Regions from separate parts of the Homo sapiens genome. Here region 2 is reported to be linked to region 1. Evidence: microRNA targets listed by miRTarBase, many of them from high-throughput screens and not tested one by one. Region 1 holds a microRNA gene; the other region holds the end of a gene's coding sequence.

The links. Region 1 holds the annotated microRNA hsa-miR-6814-5p (UCCCAAGGGUGAGAUGCUGCCA, at 2,311-2,332, shown strand). A microRNA usually pairs through its seed, bases 2 to 8, with sites in the 3' UTR of a target mRNA and lowers its output. Matches are read on the target gene's strand: a 7mer-m8 pairs with bases 2 to 8, a 7mer-A1 pairs with bases 2 to 7 and ends in A, and an 8mer does both.
Region 2: the mRNA of TRPM3 is a reported target of hsa-miR-6814-5p. The part of its 3' UTR that is shown has no 7-base or 8-base seed match.

What each region holds. Positions count from the first base shown.
Region 1 is chr21:41,744,503-41,749,146 of GRCh38, reverse strand. It overlaps MIR6814 (microRNA 6814), which reads left to right and starts at 2,306; the gene lies at 2,306-2,375. RIPK4 (receptor interacting serine/threonine kinase 4) reads left to right here. Exons shown (of 8, transcript NM_020639.3): 5 at 2,376-2,534; 6 at 3,285-3,388.
Region 2 is chr9:70,531,989-70,536,305 of GRCh38, reverse strand. TRPM3 (transient receptor potential cation channel subfamily M member 3) reads left to right here. Exons shown (of 26, transcript NM_001366145.2): 26 at 1-4,317. The coding sequence ends at 353. All of the region lies in intron 3 of KLF9-DT (KLF9 divergent transcript), which reads right to left. Among named protein-coding and RNA genes, the nearest start is that of KLF9, 120 kb to the right of the region's middle.

The DNA.
Region 1 (4,644 bases):
GACCTGTCTTTGAGGTGTAATGTGCTTGTCTTTCCTGGAATAATGGGGGGACACCTTGTTGTCCTTTCTCTATCCTAAAACAGAGCCTGTGATCCACGCTGCCATAGGTGCTGCTCTGTGGTGTAATTTGCATGCAGGAAAAGACACAGATCTGAAGGGGCCTGTTCAATGGAATGTTTTTAGGTGCCAGCTAGTTTTTTTGTGGTAGTAAAATATATATAACATAAAATTGGTCATGTTAGCCATTTAAAGTGTATAATTCAGTGACATTAACTACACTGGCAGTGTTGAACAAGCGTTACCACTGTCTAATTCCAGAACATTCTCATCATGCTAGAAGGCAAAGCCCATGGCCATTCTGCAGTCCCTCGCCCTTCCTCCTGCTCAAGCCCCAGCAACCACTCACCTGCTTTCTGTCTCCAGGGGTTTGCCTGTGCTGGTATTTCCAGCTAATTCTTTTTTGTTTACTTTTTAAAAAAATAGTCATAAAATACACAGAACAAAACTTAGCATGTCAGCCGTGTGAAGCATACAGTTCAGGAGCATTACATGTACCCGCGTGCTTGCGCAGCCAACCTCCAGAGCTGCTCAGTGCCATGGAGTTGCTTGCAGGAGTGGCACCCCTGCCCAGCTTGAGAGCTGTGGTGTTTGCTTCCCCAGCCAGGCAGCCACCATTCCGAACACCATCCTCAAAGTTGTCACACCTTGACTTACTTATCATAAAAATCCAGGACTTTTTAGCTTTGTTGGACAGATTCCCTTTTCCTCTAAAGACATTTCTGGGCTACTCATGATATTTTGTGGTGTGACCGAAAATGTCTAAAAATGAAGATGAGAGTCAAGGCCTAGCCCCTTGTTAGTCGGGGCTCAGACTAGGAGCCGATGTATGGGAAAGTGCTGGGGTGAGAAGAGATCTTCCAGCATCGCAAGATCAAGTATCTTGGCAGCTTTAAAAGAATGTCAGTAGAAAGCACAGAACGCGTCCTGCCAGGCCTCTGCTGGCCGGTGTCCGTCTGTGTTGTCTGACCGCCTGTCGCCTTTCTTGCCTTCTGTACGTTCTCCCGCACAGTGGCCTACAGCCCGAAGGCTTGTGAAATGAGGCAGTGTCTGATAGATGTGACACCCGAAGCTAGGCGCAGGGGACAGGTCAAGGCTCAAGCCCTTGTGCTTTATTGCTGAATATGCCTAGTGTTCCCTTATTGGAACGCTAATCATATGGGAATTATTCGTGTCCTACTGTTCAAGGTCATCGCCAAGGTCTGATTTTTCAAATTCAAAAAATTGCAACCTCAGGCAAAAATGGGTAGGAGGGGGTTCAAGGTGCAGGAGAACAAGGCCTCTCCCCAGCTTTTCCAGTCTGTGCTTGGCAGCAGGAAACATTCCGGGCGTTTACTTCAGTTTGCTTCCATTTTATTTAGAGGAGCTGTTGGTTTTGAAGTCTGAATAATCATGGAAATAGCCTGCTAAACACTTAACGATATTTATTGCACAAGATTTAATGGGAAAGTGGAGCAAAACATTGTATGGAATCCTGGCAGCCGTGGGTGATTCTCGGCTGATTTTCCACACCTGCTGAGGCACATGGCCTCTCCAAAGAGCTGCCATTCCATGCGTGGGTGTGTTTGGATCTGGAGGGCAGAGAGGGCTGTTGGGAACAAGAACCTTGAGGGTTCCAGGCTAAGCAGAAAAAAGAACTTGGCCCACTGGATGTCACCCTGGGCCCTTCCCAGTCAGGGTAGAAGTTGTGGCAATAATAATAATAAGCTAGAGCCCATGCATGCTAGTGAAGGCAGTTGGAAAGGACAGGTGCGGCCCCACATGGTGAATTGAGGGGAAAGAGCCCTTCCACACATCCCAGCCCTGGTGCACCGGCAGGGGAGGCCAGCTGGGGACCTGAGCTTGGGATTGGAGTTGGAACTGAGGAAGACTTCTTCGCCATTGTAGAGAGAGTTGGGTCTCTGTGGATGTAGGACGCTGTGGCTCCTCCATGGTGCGTGAGCCTCATTCCCTTTGCTGGCTTGGGCTGTTGATGGAATGAGCCTCATAAGATATTGTTCTCCTTTGAACCTCATCTTCCTTTGGATGGGATGCCTAGAAAGATCTGCTCTGTGACCAAACACACTGACTCCTTCTGGTAGATCAGAACCCAGGGAAAGAGGTCGATTTCAAAACCAGGAAACTAGAGAGCATGGCGCACCATGAGGGTGAGGGTTACAGGAAGCTCTGCCTTTGAAACGGAGTGGGGGAGCCGTCTCCCTGGGGTGGTGTGGGGATGGCCCCATTGTGGCCCCCGGCGAGTGTGTCGTTTCCTCCCAAGGGTGAGATGCTGCCACCCAGCCCTGCAGAGCCCCTGACTCGCATCCTTCCCTTGGCAGATGAGAAGAACATCCTGCACATCATGGTGAAGGTGGTGAAGGGCCACCGCCCCGAGCTGCCGCCCGTGTGCAGAGCCCGGCCGCGCGCCTGCAGCCACCTGATACGCCTCATGCAGCGGTGCTGGCAGGGGGATCCGCGAGTTAGGCCCACCTTCCAAGGTGAGCACCCCGGGGTCTCCCCGCCACATTCTGTGGGTGTCACAGGAGACAGAGGTGACAGACAGGACAGGGTGAGGGACCAGGCCTGGGTGAGAAACAAGGCGTGTAACAGGTGGGCCGAAATGAGCCCTGCACAGATAGGTTGGACCCAGCACCTGCCTGCGGCCTCTGGTACTCACGGCTCGGCCACGGCAGCTGGAACTGAGTTGCCTCCAACCATCCGCCCCCTGCTCCCCACCAGGGTTGGGCTTGCCACCCAGAGGAGTCTGTATGGGAGCCTGAAGTTCAGGTGCAGCCATGCTCTTCCCGGGGACTTACCTGGCCGGTGGCCGGCGGCGTCGCCCTTCTCTTGAGGAGTTGACTTCCTGGGACAGATGTGTCTCTGGCATAGGAAAGTCACCCTGATGAGATGGAAACTGCTGCATTTAAAGCTTACGGCAGGAAACGGGCTGAATGGGGAGCTCATCCGCCAGGTGCTGGCAGCTCTGCTCCCTGTGACTGGCAGGTGGCGCTCCCCCGGGGAAGGCTTCCGCCTTGAGTCTGGTGAGGCCTTCAAATGATTACCGATGGGGGGGCCTGGGTTTGGCCAGCAAATTGTCCATGTAGGGCCCCTGGGCTTGCCTGGTGAGCTCAGGCTGGGCCGAGGCGTGTGAGAAATCCCCCAGCTCGTGGGGGCCCTGCGTTTATATGGAACGCGTGTGTACGCAGAAGTCATCATCCGAGTGACATGTCCCCTTTCTTCCCCACAAGAAATTACTTCTGAAACCGAGGACCTGTGTGAAAAGCCTGATGACGAAGTGAAAGAAACTGCTCATGATCTGGACGTGAAAAGCCCCCCGGAGCCCAGGAGCGAGGTAACGAGTCCTTCCCACAGGGGTCTTTTGTCTCCTCGGCTTCCAGGCAGGAGTTTCCAAACCACTCCTCTTTGCAGAGTCCCCCGCCGCCCGGACCACTCTCCCTCTCTTCTGAGCCCATCCCGCACCCAACTCCATTAGAAGTGTAGGTCCCATGGGGGCTCAGGTCCACCTGCCCGACTGCATCCCCGCCCCACCTCCTGTCTGATTCTGCGTGAGTGGCGGAAGGGCTTCCCTGACACTAAATAGCCACTCATTGGATGTGTGTGGACCACGGGGATCAGAAGGCCCAGCCCCGGCCGGGGAGGGAGAGCTGGTGTCTGAGTGTCTTTGCACCCCTGGCTCGGGGATCCAGTTCCTTTATAGCTGCCCATAAATGGTCTGCACTCTGATGAGTGCCACCCAGGTGATTTCAGATGTGATAAGAAGCTCCAAGTAGCAGGGCTGGCTAAATGCCTTTTCGGGTGATGAGGCTGGAGCAGACCTGTGAGGCCCAGCTGATAAGTGAGCTTTATAACGTGTTATCTGGTGTTGGGCGATTAATCCCAGGCTGTTGGTGTGAGCTCAGGAGATCAGGAAATATGTATATCAGGAATATGCGCCCACTGCCTCAACATAAAGTGCATGTGTGCCAGTGAGCCCGGGAGCAAAGGTGCCCGGGGGTTGCTAGTACAGAGGCAGACCTGGGCCCTGATAAGGGAAAGAAGGCAACCAACATGTAGGGGTGGCTCGGTACACCCAGCAACAGTGCGGGACCTCGAGCCGTCCCACAAAGGGTGGGGAGTTGGGGCAAACAGGTGTGCCTAAGGGAAGAAGCGTGAAATCCCGTCAGATTCCACTTACCCACCAGAAACCTGCTGCCCCTGCAGTCCATGAAGCGAGACTCTTTAAAAGGCCCCATCGGTGTATGTCGGATTGGATCACCCCTCGTCCCTGTAGCCGGGTCCTTCCCCTTTCCCTCGTCCCCACACAGCCCCCAGGCCAGCCCCACGTGGCTCCGCGGGGAGGTCGCAGTTGTGGCCACGTGTGGGGGTCCTGCCCAGTTCCTGTCTGTCCTCTCGTTTCCTGCCAACGCTGGCCTGTGCTGGGCAGCTGTGTCCCGCCATACATGCCTCACATTCTGCAGCTTGACACCGCCTGCCTTTTGTCTGGGTGACGCTCTGTGCAGTGTTACTGAGCAGATGGTATCCAGAGCTGCATGAGGCTGGATTTTGCACTTTTATGAAGGCTATCTTTCCTTAAGATGTCTCCGTGCT
Region 2 (4,317 bases), not on the chromosome of region 1:
GTCACCCCAGCTCTGACAGTGAGGAGAATGAGGCCAAAGGCCGCAGAGCCACCATTGCAATATCCTCCCAGGAGGGTGATAACTCAGAGAGAACCCTGTCCAACAACATCACTGTTCCCAAGATAGAGCGCGCCAACAGCTACTCGGCAGAGGAGCCAAGTGCGCCATATGCACACACCAGGAAGAGCTTCTCCATCAGTGACAAACTCGACAGGCAGCGGAACACAGCAAGCCTGCGAAATCCCTTCCAGAGAAGCAAGTCCTCCAAGCCGGAGGGCCGAGGGGACAGCCTGTCCATGAGGAGACTGTCCAGAACATCGGCTTTCCAAAGCTTTGAAAGCAAGCACAACTAAACCTTCTTAATATCCGCCACAGAAGGCTCAAGAATCCAGCCCTAAAATTCTCTCCAACTCCAGTTTTTCCCCTTTCCTTGAATCATACCTGCTTTATTCTTAGCTGAGCAAAACAAGCAATGCTTTGGGAGGTGTTAACTCAAAGGTGACTTCTGGGCCACAGATCAAGAAAGCATTTGATCTGACCCAGTGCCAGACACAGGGGATTTAAGGCATGTTCACACTTGCTGGGCAGGGAGGGGGAAGAGAGGGAGAAGGAAGGGTTAGAGATGAATGTGTATCCGCAGTCACAGCAGAAAGCCATGAGAGCAGGGGAAACAAGGGGCTTCGAGCACGCTCCATGCCAGGAGGCATCTGTTGATTTCTGACCATTATCAAGAGTTGTAGGATGCAGGGCTAAATTGCAAAATAAAATAAAATAGCCAGCGTACACAATGAGATATTCTAAACTTCCATTCTGTTTTCTTTTCACATTGGCTCCATCACTGGTGACTGATGAAGAGCATCCTCTTTATTCAGTATAAGCCGGCAGCAAGCAGTTCTACCTAACGTCCCACATCCTTCTCATGCCAACACTTCTGTAATTGATCATTATAAAGAAAAAACAAGGTAACAGTCATAGTTCACCTGTCTCTTATCTATTCACTTCTGGTGCCACAACTGTTTATCCTTTTTTGAAGAAAATAAGGGAACAGAAATGCCTTTTTGTATTGCAATCGAAATGAAAGAAGAGTTGATGTTAAAAAAACAAAAGTCAAGTGATTTATTATATACAGTGGGCGTTCAAGTCTAGTCGAGCAAGCTCAGGAGAATGTAATTAAATAATTTTATATTTTTTAATTTATTTTGTATCTCACCTGTCATGGATGAATTCATTCACTGAATATGTAATATTGAACTTAAAAAAAAAAAAAAAAAAACAGTGGACAGAACTAGCCTGAAATTGCCATGTGGGATGTTCTGTTCTCACCGTTCATGTCGTGTGTTGTGCTGCTGTGTGACCGTCATCATTTGCATGGCTCCACCACGTCCTCCTGAACACCTCCAAGACGTAACTGCCAATTTTTCACACCACTCATCACATGACCATTTTGTATATGAATATATGGTTATATGTGGATATTTTCATACCTAGAGTTTTGCCATCTAATCTGAGCTCAGCATAAATTTAATTGGAGTTTTTCAAGGGCTGGTATCTTTTCTATGGAAATGTTCCAAAGTACTTTTTAAGGAAGTTTCAAAACTATAAATAACCTTAGATTTGACTGGGAGTTTGGTATCAACCCAAAGCCATCAGTTGCAAGCATACCATGAATATTTTTCTTATAGACAGAGCTATAAAAAAAGATACAGTAGACCAAAATAGAAAGCAAATAAACCATATAAAGAGTTCTATAGTATATGCCACTTATACACATGTATATGCATTTATGCAGAGACACATATTTATATATAAAATAAATGGACATAAAGAGCTTTCTTAAGAGGCTTGGACTTTTCTATCACCTTGAAGTATAATCAAGATTTTTTTTAATATACAAGAAGTTCCATTGAAAGAGTTCATTATACTATTAGACCAAATGTTGAAATTATGAATTTTTTAAATTCCTATGACTTTTCCTCATATCAAACTAGAGTTGTCAAAATGACTCACTGCTCGCCTTCTGCCCTTTTTTGTCTGAAATCACTCACTATCAGGACATCTCATTTAGTCTCGCTTTTCCTAAACAAAGTTTTTACACCACGTACAATCTGAATAGACACGCAACTTTAAACCAGCTAGTGTTACAGACTCTAAAGTAGAGGCATAATCTTCTAGATCAGAATCTGGATTGGAAGTGGGATAAAGAAATCTTGACCCCAAATCTTTGGATTCCTATTTGGCTCATTAACGTTTAAAAAAGAATAAAGCCTTTAAGGAAAACAATCTATTGTTCCTGGCCTGAGATACTACCTGGTTCTTTTGTTTAATTATAATTGAAAACACCAAGTTTTACTTTATTTTGTGAAATCAAGTAAATACATGGCCTTTAAATATAAGATAAAAAACAAAATAAAAACTCTTCTGAATAAGCATTTCAGGTATAAAAATTGTGATGAGGTCACATATGTAAAGAATTAAACAATTCCTTTTTCACTCCTTGGCATTTAGGTGAATTGCTAACAAACACCCAGACTCCCTTATTTACAGCTGTTCTAGAAACACTTAACATTTTATTGGGCCCCACGCTGGCTATTTCCCTCTCAGCAAACATGCACTGGGTCTGAGAATAAATCAGTCGTTCTTAAACTTCCTTGAGTCATGAATCCCTACGAGGCTCTACGATAACTCTAGGCTCTCTCTCCAGAAAGAAAAAAAAAATGTACATAATGCAAAGTTGCAATATAACTTGAAAGGGTTCATGAGCCCCTGGTTCTATATTGATTATGAGGGAAAGGAACCATGTTTGCTCGTAGTTAATGCAGTTGTAATAGGCACTTTACATTTGAGACCATCTCTCTGTGATTCTCAGGAAGGCCAAATCTCAGCACCAGAGTTTGAACAAAGATTTTGTTATTTTTGTTCTTTAAATTAGATGTTGCCAATTTAATGCACTTACATCCTAACATGTTGATGATTTTAAGTATCAAGCACAATCACAATGCTGAAGTCTCCCTGAAGGGTCTATAGAGGAATCCAAGAAGGAGGTGAAAACATTATTCATTGACATCAAACACCTCCAAGGCCTCATTCTGGGCCAGATTGGAAGTGAGGGAAAGAAATTTTCAGCTCAAGTGTTTCCATTCATCGTGATTTCAGAGAGAAAAGGATAGGAACTGGGAAACGAAATACTCAACAGTCCTGATCTTGCAATTACCTGATTCTTTTGTTGTGCATGAAAATTAAGTTCTAACGTCTGTGAAACGTGTGAAATATATAAGCCAAACTTAAATGACTGTAGACACAAACTGTGTAACTTCCATGAGCCATTTCCTTCCTGTGCACATGTATGTGTGTTATTTTTCAGTCCATTTCCTTCCATTTCTGGGTTCTCTGTGCAGCAATGTGGCATTGATTCTGTGGCCTTGTGCAGTCAGCTTATGCTCAGCCCATTGATTCCACCACATCCCTGATCGAGGGGACGTTAATTACCTGTCTTTGTGAATTAAGCAGTTTATGAGCAGCAAGTTACTGAGGACCGTAAATAAAGTCATAGAGAGCTCAAGGAAGTAATAGCTTCGGTTTAATCATCTGCTTCAAAGGTGCCAATTTTTACATACTACTATATGTAATGATTTGTTCTAAATTGCTTGTTCCTTTTGAAAAAAATTTAAGGATGTTTTATGAAAATGACCATGGAGGTCTCCTGCTTAACCAATATACTTTATATTTATAGTTAGAGGGCCCCTCCTTGATAGATTTGAATGAGGAGCTGGAAAGCTTGGGTACAATTTTCATGACTAGTTTGTATTATCTCTGCAAGCCAAAAGGTGTATTAGCAGTCAGAATACAGCACTTTACAGAACTGGATTTTTTAAATGTATAAGTTTCCAGGTCTAGGATATTATTTAGCACTTTGAAAGTTCCCCTTTTAAAATATATATATAAGAATAATCAAACGAGAAAAATGTACTCATAAAAACACAAAATGTGTTTCTTCTGAATGTTTCAAATGTATTCTAAAATATGGTTTCTATAGATAATATTATGGTAGATAACTGGATAGTACTTTTTTACTTTCTGAGTCTGTACAGTCTAATCTTCCTGAATGTTTGGGCTGTTTAATTTCTTTAAAGATGATAAATATTACCCGGTCATCCATCATGCTCTATCTATAGGCTATACCATTCATATGTTGGGCAATGCTGTATTATAAAACACATGTAAACATGTATGTAACCCATGTTTAACCCAGCGTAGTTGTAGCATGTGGTTGTATTAATGAACGTTACAGGAGAGCTTTATAATCATTTATAAATCTGT